Linked DNA regions of Homo sapiens: region 2 is linked to region 1. Evidence: fine-mapped expression QTL. A gene starts in region 1. The other region holds a variant in brackets. All regions are shown on one strand. Distances are from middle to middle.

Region 1 (5,363 bases):
TTTTTTGAGGCTGGTTTTCTTTAAGAGCACGTTCCCCCAGTGTAAGTCTCGGTGCTCAAAGCGCAGTGATGCCTCTGCCACTGCGAGGGAGGCTGTGAGCTGGTGTAGAATGCTCTTTGCAGTAGCCAAGGAAGACAACTTGGTTCGCATTTGCTCTAAGTCAATCCCTCCAAACTCAAATTCCAGCACAATGAAGAGCTGGTCGTCTTTAAAAAAATCAGGCCGGTCATTTGCAGAGCCTTTGGTTGAATTATAGTGATCCCAGGCTTTGAGGAGCAAGGGAGGGTAAGATCCCTGGACACAGTGCACTGAGTTCAGCCCGATAAAGCCTTCTGTGCGGTTGCACACTTCACCGGATAAGAGGCTCAACTCTTTGGAGATGATGATCTCTGGCAGGATTTCCTCAAAGGTTTTCTGATGGGATCCATTGACTAAATCTGGTCCTTCAATAGCAATGATTTTTATGGCTACGGGTGTGTGATCAGCAATTGTTTGAAACACTTCGCCAAACACCCCTTCCCCAATCTTCTCACAGCGTTGCAGTTTTTCTGTGGGAAGGCAATGGCTAAAGGGGACAGGACCCTTCTGACTGCATTCCCCATAAACCTTTTCAGCATCAGATGCCTTTTTGTTTGAAATACTTAGAGTGTTTAAGGGGCTTAGCAAATACATAGAGGAGGAGTGCCAAGAGGACGGAGCACCACTTGTTCTGTTCATGACAGGCCGGTTTGAACATTCTGATAGGAGGGATCCAGAGAGAGAAGTGGCAGTGGTATAGATGCTGCAGACCTCTGACACATCAGTCACAATTTTCTTCTTGTGGAAACTGAAGGAAGCCCTGGTTTTGGTCCAAAAGCAGACATTCTGTAAAGGAGTCAGGTCCTGGGTGGGGAACGAATCTTTTCCCAGCTTTTGGCCCTTTTTAAAGCGGTGGGAATGGAGGAGAGAGGTTTCCGTTGCCTCCTGATGTTTGCTCTTCCGGCTTGATCTAGTTCTCTCCAGCCTGTCTATTCCCCTTGGCACAATGCGGCCCTTGGGAACACTGGCCTCCTGATGCTCTCTCCGGACGGCCTCTTGAAGCCCTCTCTCTTGACAAGAGTCCTGGCCTGTGGCCCTCCTCTTGCCTGTGCTTGACAGACCTGGACCCTCTGGTCCATTTCCCACCACCAGTTTCCTTTTACAGCAGGACTCTCTCATATTCTTCCCATCTGCCCGAAACTCAGAATCCTCAGGGGTTCCTGAGTTCATAAGGCCAAAGAGAACTGACCTGAGGCTGGCGCGGGTTTGGTGGACCATCCTGGTGTCCTTGGCTCCTCCTGTCGCTTCCTCCTGGGAGCAGGGGAGAGATGCTCGGTCCAGGGAGACTTCTGGGAGGTGGAGGCCGCTCGGGACGGCTGAGGCTGCAACCAGACAGGCGGAGGTGCCGATCGAGATGACACTGTCCCTTGGCGTTGGGGACCCGGGGCAGGGCGAGGCCAGAGAGCTGAACAGGGAGGCACTGATGCCCAGCTCGTCGCCGTCCCTGGGCTGGCCGCACACGCTGAGGTCCGGGCTGAGGCGGCCGGAGTCGCGGCTGGGGAAGGGCGGAAGTCGGAGCGGGCCGCAGGGTGTGCTGCACTTCTGCGGGGGCCGAGCTCGCAGCCCCAGGCGTCTTGGGGTCACGGTTAGGCTTGGGCGAGCTCGCAGCTTCCAGCGCTTTGGGGTCACGGTCAGGCTGGGCCGGTCCTTGGGCACTCGGCCGCCGGGACGCCTCCGCCGCCGCCTCACCGGGCTGCCGGGGAAGTCGGGGTCGTCGGGATCGTCAGGATCGTCGGACTGCGAGGGGTCGCCGATGCTGGCGTCGCTGCTGCCGCTGCTGTTGAAGAAACGCCTCCGGTCCTGCGGCGGGAACCACTGCGCGGCTTCCCGGCCCGGCCGCCGCTGTCTCCTGCCGTCCGCAGCCCCATATGTGCGGAAAAGCCGGCTCCCAGGTCCCGGGAGCGAAGCCGCCATGGCCGGCACCCGCCAAGAGGTTCAAACGCAAACATCGCGAGACTTCCGTGCGACGCGGACGCGCCCGCCTGCCGCGGGGTCCTAGCTCCCGGCCCTGCGCATGCGCACCTCGCCAGGGCCGGGGCCGGGACGGGACGGAAAACTGGCGGCTTGGTTTGTTCAGCGCGTCGCGGTCATGGCTCTCGTTTCAGGCCTCCACGGTGTGCACCTGGAGTCAGGAGCGCGCTTGTGCGTACAGTTCGGTTCAGGTAAGCGCGGCCGTCCCGAGAGGCCAGGGGAGGGCGGAGGGCCTGAAGCGGGTAACGAGAGGCCAGGAGACTGTTTTTCCTGGGTTACCCCTGCCGGCCAGTGCCGGGGGCTGCCAGGCCCTCCCTAGCTTCGTCCCTGGGTCTCAATTGCTCCCGCTGGAGCTTCGCTTGGGCCGAGGTGAGCGCTGAAATTGCTCACACCCTCTATTCTGGGACCTTACGATGCTCTGTGTCCGAAGTGTTAAAAAGATTTCAGACTTTCCGCACGGAAAGGAATTGTGTTCACTAGACCTCGCTTTTCCAGCATGTGGAAGAATGGCATTCAGTGAGCTGTGTCATCGCTTCAGATAAAGAAAATGTCACCGTGGCTGCAGAGATCTCCTGGGATCACTCTGAGGAGGTGTTTGAGACTGAAATGCTCCAGATTTGATTATCCAGTTGCTCACGGGCATCGCCCCTAGAAGAGATAATAGCATCTTTGCATAACATGTCCATGTCCAAAATAGATCTTTTGGTGCAAAAAACCAACCCTCTGTCCCAACCCGTTCCTTAGCTACCCTCAGGAGGGAGATATACTCCAGTTACAGTACAAGGAACTCGAGGGATTACCTGTGACTCCTCTTTCCTACATCCCCACGTCTATTCCAGCAGCAAGCCCTGCCATTTCAGGGCCAAAATATATCCTAAACCCATTCACTTCTCTCCATTTCCACTGCCGTTGTAATTCAAGCTACCCTTTCTTGCCAGGGCTGTTGCAATAACCTTCGGCCTGCCTTTCTTGCCTCTGCTTTTCCCACATTCTTTACAAATAATTCCCACGTAACAGCTATCCGTCTTCTAAGAGCAGACATTAGATTGTGCCATTCCCCTGCTTATTAAAAATAACAAACAAACAAAACTGATGCTTGAGCACACTTAGACTAAAATCCATACTTTTTTCATGGCCAGAGCAAGGCAGTACTTGATCTGGTCTCTGCTTAATTCTTCAACTTCATCTCCTAGTACTCGCCTTTCTCTCCCACTGCCCCTTTTATAATCGGGTTATTCTGTCCTATTCTTCTAGCTCGCCAGTACAGCATTATTCTGGCCACAAGACTTTGTACTTGCTGTTCCTTTGCTTGACACTGCTCTTCCTCTAGGTCCTGACGTAGGTGGTTTCTTCTTAAATTTAGCTCAGGTGTTCTTTTCTTTTTTTTTTTTTTTTTTTTAGATGGAGTCTTGCTCTGTCACCCGGGCTGGAGTGCAGTGGCACGATCTCTACTCACTGCAACCTCCGCCTCCCGGGTTCAAGTGATTCTCCTGCCTCAGCCTCCCGAGTAGCTGGGATTACAGGCGCCGGCGACCACGCCCAGCTAATTTTTGTATTTTTAGTAGAGAGGGGGTTTCACCATGTTGGCCAGGCTGGTCTCGAACTCCTGACCTCAGGTGATCGCCCGCCTCAGCCTCCCAAAGTGCTGGGATTACAGGCGTGAGCCACCGCACCCGACCTAGGTGTTCTTTTCTTTTCTTTTCTTTCTTTCAAGACGGAGTTTCGCTCTTGTTGTGCAATGGCACGATCTCGGCTCACTGCAACCTCCGCCTCCCGGGTTCAAGCGATTCTCCTGCCTCAGCCTCCCAAGTAGCTGGGATTACAGGTATGCGCCACCATACCCGGCTAATTTTGTATTTTTAGTAGAGATGGGGTTTCTCCATGTTGGTGAGGCTGGTCTTGAACTCCTGACCTCAGGTGATCCGCCCTCCTTGGCCTCCCAAAGTGCTGGGATTACAGGCGTGAGCCACCACGCCCGGCTAATTTTGTATTTTTAGTAGAGATGGGGTTTCATCGTGTTGGTCAGGCTGGTCTTGAACTCCTGACCTCAGATGATCTACCCACCTCAGCCTCCCGAAGTGCTGGGATTACAGGCATGAGCCACCACACCCGGCCACACGTGTTATTTTCTTAGAGAGGCCTTCCCTGATCACTTATTCTAAAGTGGGAACTAGTGATCAAGTGATCAAGTTTAATGTTTTACAGTGATCCAGGTGACATTTGTGAGGTCTCAACTGAAGAAGTAGCAATGGGGGTGGAAAAGAAAGGGACAGATACAAGAAATAATTTAAAAAAAAAGAATTGTGAGTGTGGTGGCTCACATCTGTCATCCCAACACTTTGGGAGGCTGAGGCGGGAGGATTGCTTGAGGCCAGGAGTTCAAGATCAGCCTGGGCAGCATAGTGAAACCCCATTTCTTAAAAATAAATAAATACATAAATTAGCCACGCATGGTGGCTCATGCCTGTAGTCCCAGCTACTTGGGAGGCTGAGGCAGGAGTATCGTTTGAGCCCAGGAATTTGAAGCTTCAGTGAGCTATGATTGAGCCACTCCATTCCGGCCCGAGTAACAGAGTGAGACCTTGTCTCAAAAAAAAAAAAAAAAAAAAAAAAAAAAAGGAAAAATCTCTTACGTTAAATAAAATGAATAAGCTGGGTGTGGTGGCTCATGCCTGTAATCTCAGCACTGTGGGAGGCTAAGGTGGGTGGATTGCTTGAGCCCAGGAGTTTGAGACCAGCCTGGGCAACATGGTAAAACCCCATCTCTACAAAAAATACAAAAATTAGCCCAGTGTGGTGGGGTGCACCTGTGGTCTCAGCTACTCAGGAGACTGAGGTGGGAGGATCACTTGAGCCTGGAAGGTTGAGGCTATAGTGACCCATGATCATGCCATTGCACTCCAGCATGGGTGACAGAGCGAGATCCTGTCTCAAAAATAAGTCAGTCAGTCAAGAACTGACTTTGGATGGCACAAGGGAAAAGAAGTTGAAGAAAAGGCCAGGCGCGGCAGCTCACGCCTGTAATCCCAGCACTTTGGGAGGCCGAGGTGGGTAGATCATCTGAGGTCAGGAGTTCGAGACAAGCCTGGCCAACATGGCAAAACCCCATCTCTACTAAAAATACAAAAATTAGCCTGGCATGGTGGCACATGCCCATAATTCCAGCTACTCGGGAGGCTAAGGCAGGAGAATCGCTTGAACCTGACGGGGTGGAGGTTGCAGTGAGCCGAGATCGCACCACTTCACTCCAGCCTGGGCGAAAGAGCGAAACTCCATCTCAAAAAAAAAAAAAAAGGAAGTTGAAGAATAACTGC
Region 2 (5,363 bases), 27 kb after region 1:
AGAGCAGAGCCCTTCTCTAAAGCCACAGTGGCAGTTAAGACAGGACATGGAGGGCAAGTGCCTGGCAGTTCAGCCTCTCCAGTAGCACACAAAGGTTTGATGAATCAAGAACAGCAGAGTGCCTGGGACTGGGGCTAGTGGTAGGCTCTGCTCTGGGGCCTCACTTACTCACCCCTTCCCTAATCACCCCAGAAAAATGAAGGTCCTGGTCTCTAAAGACCCCTTCAAAGAACAAACAGGCCCTGGAACAAAACCTGGAACTCCCTTGGGGAGTGGAGAGACTCAATGTGGCACCATCTCTGTGACACTCATGTTGTCCTGTGCTGGGGTTGATGGGCAAGCTCTTCTCCAGGGCAGATGCAATTCAGGCGACTCCTGTGAGACTCTGAAAGTCCACCTCCCCTCTATACCTTACCCTGGAGCAGCACTGTCAGGGTGACGGGCATCTTCTTAGGGGTGATGTCACTCGGTGGCGGCTGCTTTAGTGAGCATTGGAGTGCTGTGTTAGCAGGGGGCTGAGGAGGAGGCTGGCAGGAGAGCCAAGATGACTTCAGCCCCTAAAATTCGCAGTCATGACTGGGGCAGGGTGGAATCGAAATGCCCTCCCTGTTGAAAAAAAAAAAAATCAGGGCCAGGTTTGTCCACTCATTCAATAATATGTCTAGAACTATTATGTGGCAGGCACAGGGACATACAGAGATGTCCAAAGGCATGGTCCCTGCTCTCCGGGAGCTTCTGGTCTTAGCATGGGACACAGTCACTAAGTCAACGAGATCCTACTGGATAGTGACAGGTGCTCTAAGGGAATAAGATGAGATAATGGGATAGAAAGTGGCTGGGCTGGGACTGGGGGCTACTTTGGGTGGGCAATAATAACAGGCCTTTTTGAAGAAATGGCAGTTGAGTTGAAATGGATGAAAAGATGCAAAGATCCACGCTTTCCCAAATGACAGTTTGAGAGCAAAATACAGGTTCCCAGCCCCATCTTAGATTTCGTGAATGAAAATTTGAGGGGCAGGGCCTAGGAATTTGCCTTTTTTTCTTCCACATGATTCCCATGCACTTTGAAACTGGACACCTTCCTTGGGGCTTTTACTTTAGAATCACACTGATGAATTTCAGGGTACCTTCCAGTTCCCCGAGTCTGTGGCTTAGGGAAGGGAGCCTCTTTGTGTGTGAAAGCCAGGGGTAGGGAGAGGAGCAGGACTGCTTGTGGTCAGACTGCAGGATGCAGAAAATAAGCGTGCGCAGCTCCTCACCACACCGCGCTCACCCAGGGCCCTGCGTCTTTGGCTGTCAGGAGTTCTAAACCTGCCCCCCCGGAGGCCCTCCCTCATCCCACTCCCACTCCTGTTGAATTCCACATACTGAGAGGGTTGCAGTCATAGCTGCATGGATCAGTTCTATTTCTTGTGCGTTGGGAACCATTCCAAACAGTTGGTACATGCGCACTCTCCAGGCATATTTTTAGGATCCTAGGGTGGGTTGCCTGTGTCTCCCCGCCCCCACCCCGTCTGCCCCCCACCCCCGCACCATCCGCCCTGAGTGTGGGAGGGAGGTCTTCATGCTGCCGGCACTCGGGACCTGCCTGACCACCGACTCCGCCGGAGTGTGGGCTTTTAAACCTGCAGCAGCTGCTGCAGTAGAAACGCGCATTAGTCGCAGCAGACACAGGCAGCCTCAGGTGGGACAAGTCTTGTCTCTTCCAGCCTGTGGGGGAGCCACGGCTTCCCCCCCACAACCACCCCCTGCCCACGGAGCAAGAATGTATCTCCCTGGCAGGAGACCTGGCGCGAGGTGAATGGAGAAACCTGTTGTGTCCCCTTCCTTCCTCCCCTGGCCTCAGTTCCCCATCTATTCAATAGGAAGAACCCTTTGGGATTTCTTTGCGAGAGAAAGGGGAGTTTTGCTTTAAACGGAGCTCTTCCCGGCCGTGCGCGGTGGCTCACGCCTGTAATCCCAGCACTTTGGGAGGCCGAGGTGGGCGGATCACCTGAGGTCAGGAGTTCAAGACCAGCCTGGCCAACATGGTGAAACCCCGTCTCTACTAAAAATACAAAAATTATCACGCCTGTAGTCCCAGCTACTTGGGAGGCTGAGGCAGGAGAATCGCTTGAACCCGGGAGGCGGAGGTAGCAGTGAGCTGAGATCGCACCACTGCACTCCAGCCTCGGCGACAGAGCGAGGCTCCGTCTCAAAAATAAATGAATAAATAAATTTAAAATAAAATAAAAAGGAGCCCTTCCCCCTTTCACTTCCTCTCCTCCGCGATCGCTGCTTTCAGCTGGGCAACAGCACAGGGCGGTCCTGCGCATCCGGGGGGCTGCGCTCCCAGACCGGTGGCTGGGGAGTAGGTTGCAGGGGTGTCACTGTGTCAGGGGAGGAGGAGGAGGAGGAGGAAGAAGAGGTAGCGGCAAGGTCGCGGTCTGAGGTTCCGGTGCTCGCCGCCGCCCAGCTCCCAGCCGAGGCTTTCTCAACCGCGTCAATAAAAGGCCGCCCCGACCCGCCCCCGCGCCCCGCAGCCCTGCCGGACACCCCGGGCTGCAGCTGAGCGGGCGCAGACGGGCCGAGGCGGGCGCCGGGCGCGCAGGGACCGAGGGACCGAGTGCTCCCCATGAGCGCACGTGGGCCGGGCGGTCCGCAAGCCCGGCTGAGAGCGCGCCATGGGGCAGGCGGGCTGCAAGGGGCTCTGCCTGTCGCTGTTCGACTACAAGACCGAGAAGTATGTCATCGCCAAGAACAAGAAGGTGGGCCTGCTGTACCGGCTGCTGCAGGCCTCCATCCTGGCGTACCTGGTCGTGTAAGTTCTCCGCGGACTTTTGGGAAGGCGGGGGAGGGGCAGGGCGGGTGCCAGCCGCCGCGTCCTTCTCCAGGGTCCTGGAATTCGCAGGCGTGCACGCGGTTTTCCCGGTAGCTGG[G/A]GGTCTGTGAGCCTGCTTGCTGTGGGGGTCCTCTTTGGGTCCTTGGGTGTAGGAGTAGGGTGTAGAGAGGGGGCTCTCCACTCCCCCACTGGCGCTAGAGGTGATGAGAGGTGGGCAGGGGCCTTCTGGTTTCCTCGATTTATCAGGCTTTCCCTGCAGCTGCTTCTCCCAGAGTCGGGTCCCCACGTGTTAGGGCCATGGGAAGGGGGCAGGGATGCCAGGGGGCTGGGTGGCAGCTGTCGCCCCAGGAGCCTCCCTGGGCCTTGGCCTGGCAGCTGACCCAGGCGCCGGCAGGTTATTTATAATCACAGGGTGTCACTGCCTACTCAGAGCTGGAGAAACTCATCAGCCCGGCATGTTCCTGAGCTCCCTTCCGGTCAACTTGCCCCACCCGCGGCCAGCCTCTCTGGTGTCCAGCTGGGGGTCCTGCCCAGAGGCCTCTATCTCTGCACCCAGCTCGGCCATCCCCTTCCCCCATCCTCATGCCACCTGGCAGGAGCTGGCGCCACAAAGCCAAAGAGGCAACTTGTGGAGGCTGCTCTGCCAGGCGCCTTCAGAGCCCTGACCCCGGGGTGGGTCGGGGGTGAGCAGGTGGAGGGGAGAAGCAGCGCTGGACAATGGGGATGCGCCTCATTCCACTCGTTCAGTAAATGCGGTGGAGTTCCTCCTGCTTCCTCCTGGGAGGGCAGCCCTGACGCCTGGCTCTCCCTCGGAGGTCCAGCAGTCCGCGTTCTCTGAGCTGCATCCCCAGGCCCCTGGCCGCCTCCCACCTGAGCGGCCTCGTAGGCGCTGTGCTGTTGCTCAGCCAGGCCTGCCCGTCCTCCTCCACTCCCTTAGCATCCACTCAGCCCCCAGATCTGGGCTTTCCAGTAACTCCCTCTCCCTTCCTCCCTGGCCTTCCCACAGTGTAATTATTGGGCTTATTTGGGGGATCATTTGCCTGATGTCGCTGTCAGTCCGGGAATGCCCTGAGGGTGGGGCCCCAGCAGCACTTAACTGCTTAGGGAATAGATGTGAAATGAACGCATGAATGAATAAATGGAGTTGCTTTTGCTTGAACAATAGAAATTTAATTCTCGCAGTCCTGGATGTGGAAATCTGAGACGAGGGTGGTAGCATGGTTCGGGGTCTCAGGGGGGGCTCTCTCCTTGGCTTGCAGATGGCCACCCTCTCGCTGTGTCCTCACATGGCAGGGAAAGCAGGACATATTTAACTAAGTACAAGTATGAAAATTAGGAAATTGGCGGCCGGGCGCTGTGGCTCATGCCTATAATCCCAGCCCTTTGGGAAGCCGAGGTGGGTGGATCACCTGAGGTCAGGAGTTCGAGACCAGCCTGGCCAACATGGAGAAACCCTGTTTCTACTAAAAATACACAACAATTAGCTGGGCATGATAGTGGCGCCTGTAATCCCAGCTAATCGGGAGGCTGAGGCAGGAGAATCTGTCTCTATGGATTTGCCTATTCTGGGTATTTCGTATAAATGAAATTGTATAGTATGCGGCCTTTTTTTTTTTTTTTCTGGCTTCTTTCACTTGGTGTCATGTTTTCAAGGTTCACCCATGTTGTGGCATCTATCAGCCCTCCATTCCTCTCTGTGGCTGATACTATCCTGCCGTGTGGGGCTGCCACATTGTGGTCATGCATTCATCAGCTGATGGACATTTGGGTGGTTTTCACACCGCTGAGTGTAGTGGCTCATGCCTGTAACCCCAGCACTTTGGGAGAGGAGACCGCGGTGGCTGGATCACTTGAGGTCAGGAGTTCAAGGCTAGCCTGACCAACGTGGTAAAACCCCGTCTCTACTAAAAATTCAAAAATTGGCTGGGTGTGGTGGCGAGCGCATGTAATCTCAGCTACTCGCACCAGTGCACTCCAGCAGCCTGGGCAGCAGAGCAAGACTGTCTCAAAAAAAAAAAAAGAAGAAGAATGCTTCTGAGAACATTCATGTACAAGTTTTTTGTGAACATGTTTTCAATTTTTCAATTTTTAATTATTATTATTATTATTTTTGAGATGGAGTTTCGCTCTTGTTGCCCAGGCTGGAGTGCAATGGCATGATCTCAGCTCACTACAACCTCTGCCTCCTGGGTTCAAGAGATTCTCCTGCCTCAGCCTCTGGATTAACTGGGATTACAGGCATGGGCCACCATGCCTGGCTAATTTTTGTATTTTTTTAGTAGACACGGAGTTTCACCATGTTGGTCAGGCTGGCCTCGAACTCCTGACCTCAGGTGATCCACCTGCCTTGGCCTCCCAAAGTGCTGGGATGACAGGCGGGAGCCACTGTGCCTGGCCATGTTCTCAATCTCTTGGGAATTTTCTGGCTTATCTGGTAACTCGATCCTTAACCTTTTGAGGAACTGCTAAACTGTTTTCTACCATAACTACCTCATTTTACATCCCTATCAGTGATATACGGGGGTTCTAATTTCTTCACAACCTC

Evidence for each region. PIP is the estimated chance that this variant, and not a neighbour inherited with it, causes the effect.
Region 2: its variant is fine-mapped to the expression of HASPIN in skeletal muscle (GTEx, PIP above 0.99).

The regions. Positions count from the first base shown.
Region 1 is chr17:3,720,565-3,725,927 of GRCh38, reverse strand. HASPIN (histone H3 associated protein kinase) reads right to left here and starts at 2,025. Exons shown (of 1, transcript NM_031965.2): 1 at 1-2,025. The coding sequence starts at 1,992. It overlaps ITGAE (integrin subunit alpha E), which reads left to right. Exons shown (of 31, transcript NM_002208.5): 27 at 2,184-2,240; 28 at 2,545-2,640. It also overlaps a transcript of P2RX5 not described here. RefSeq lists an enhancer at 1,340-2,095 and a silencer at 1,965-2,124.
Region 2 is chr17:3,693,306-3,698,668 of GRCh38, reverse strand. P2RX5 (purinergic receptor P2X 5) reads left to right here and starts at 2,514. Exons shown (of 12, transcript NM_002561.4): 1 at 2,514-2,800. The coding sequence starts at 2,664. P2RX5-TAX1BP3 (P2RX5-TAX1BP3 readthrough (NMD candidate)) reads left to right here and starts at 2,265. Exons shown (of 15, transcript NR_037928.1): 1 at 2,265-2,800. RefSeq lists a silencer at 2,285-2,644 and enhancers at 2,765-2,814, 2,927-3,443, 4,414-4,463, 4,864-4,913. The variant G/A (reference allele first, on the strand shown) is at 2,919.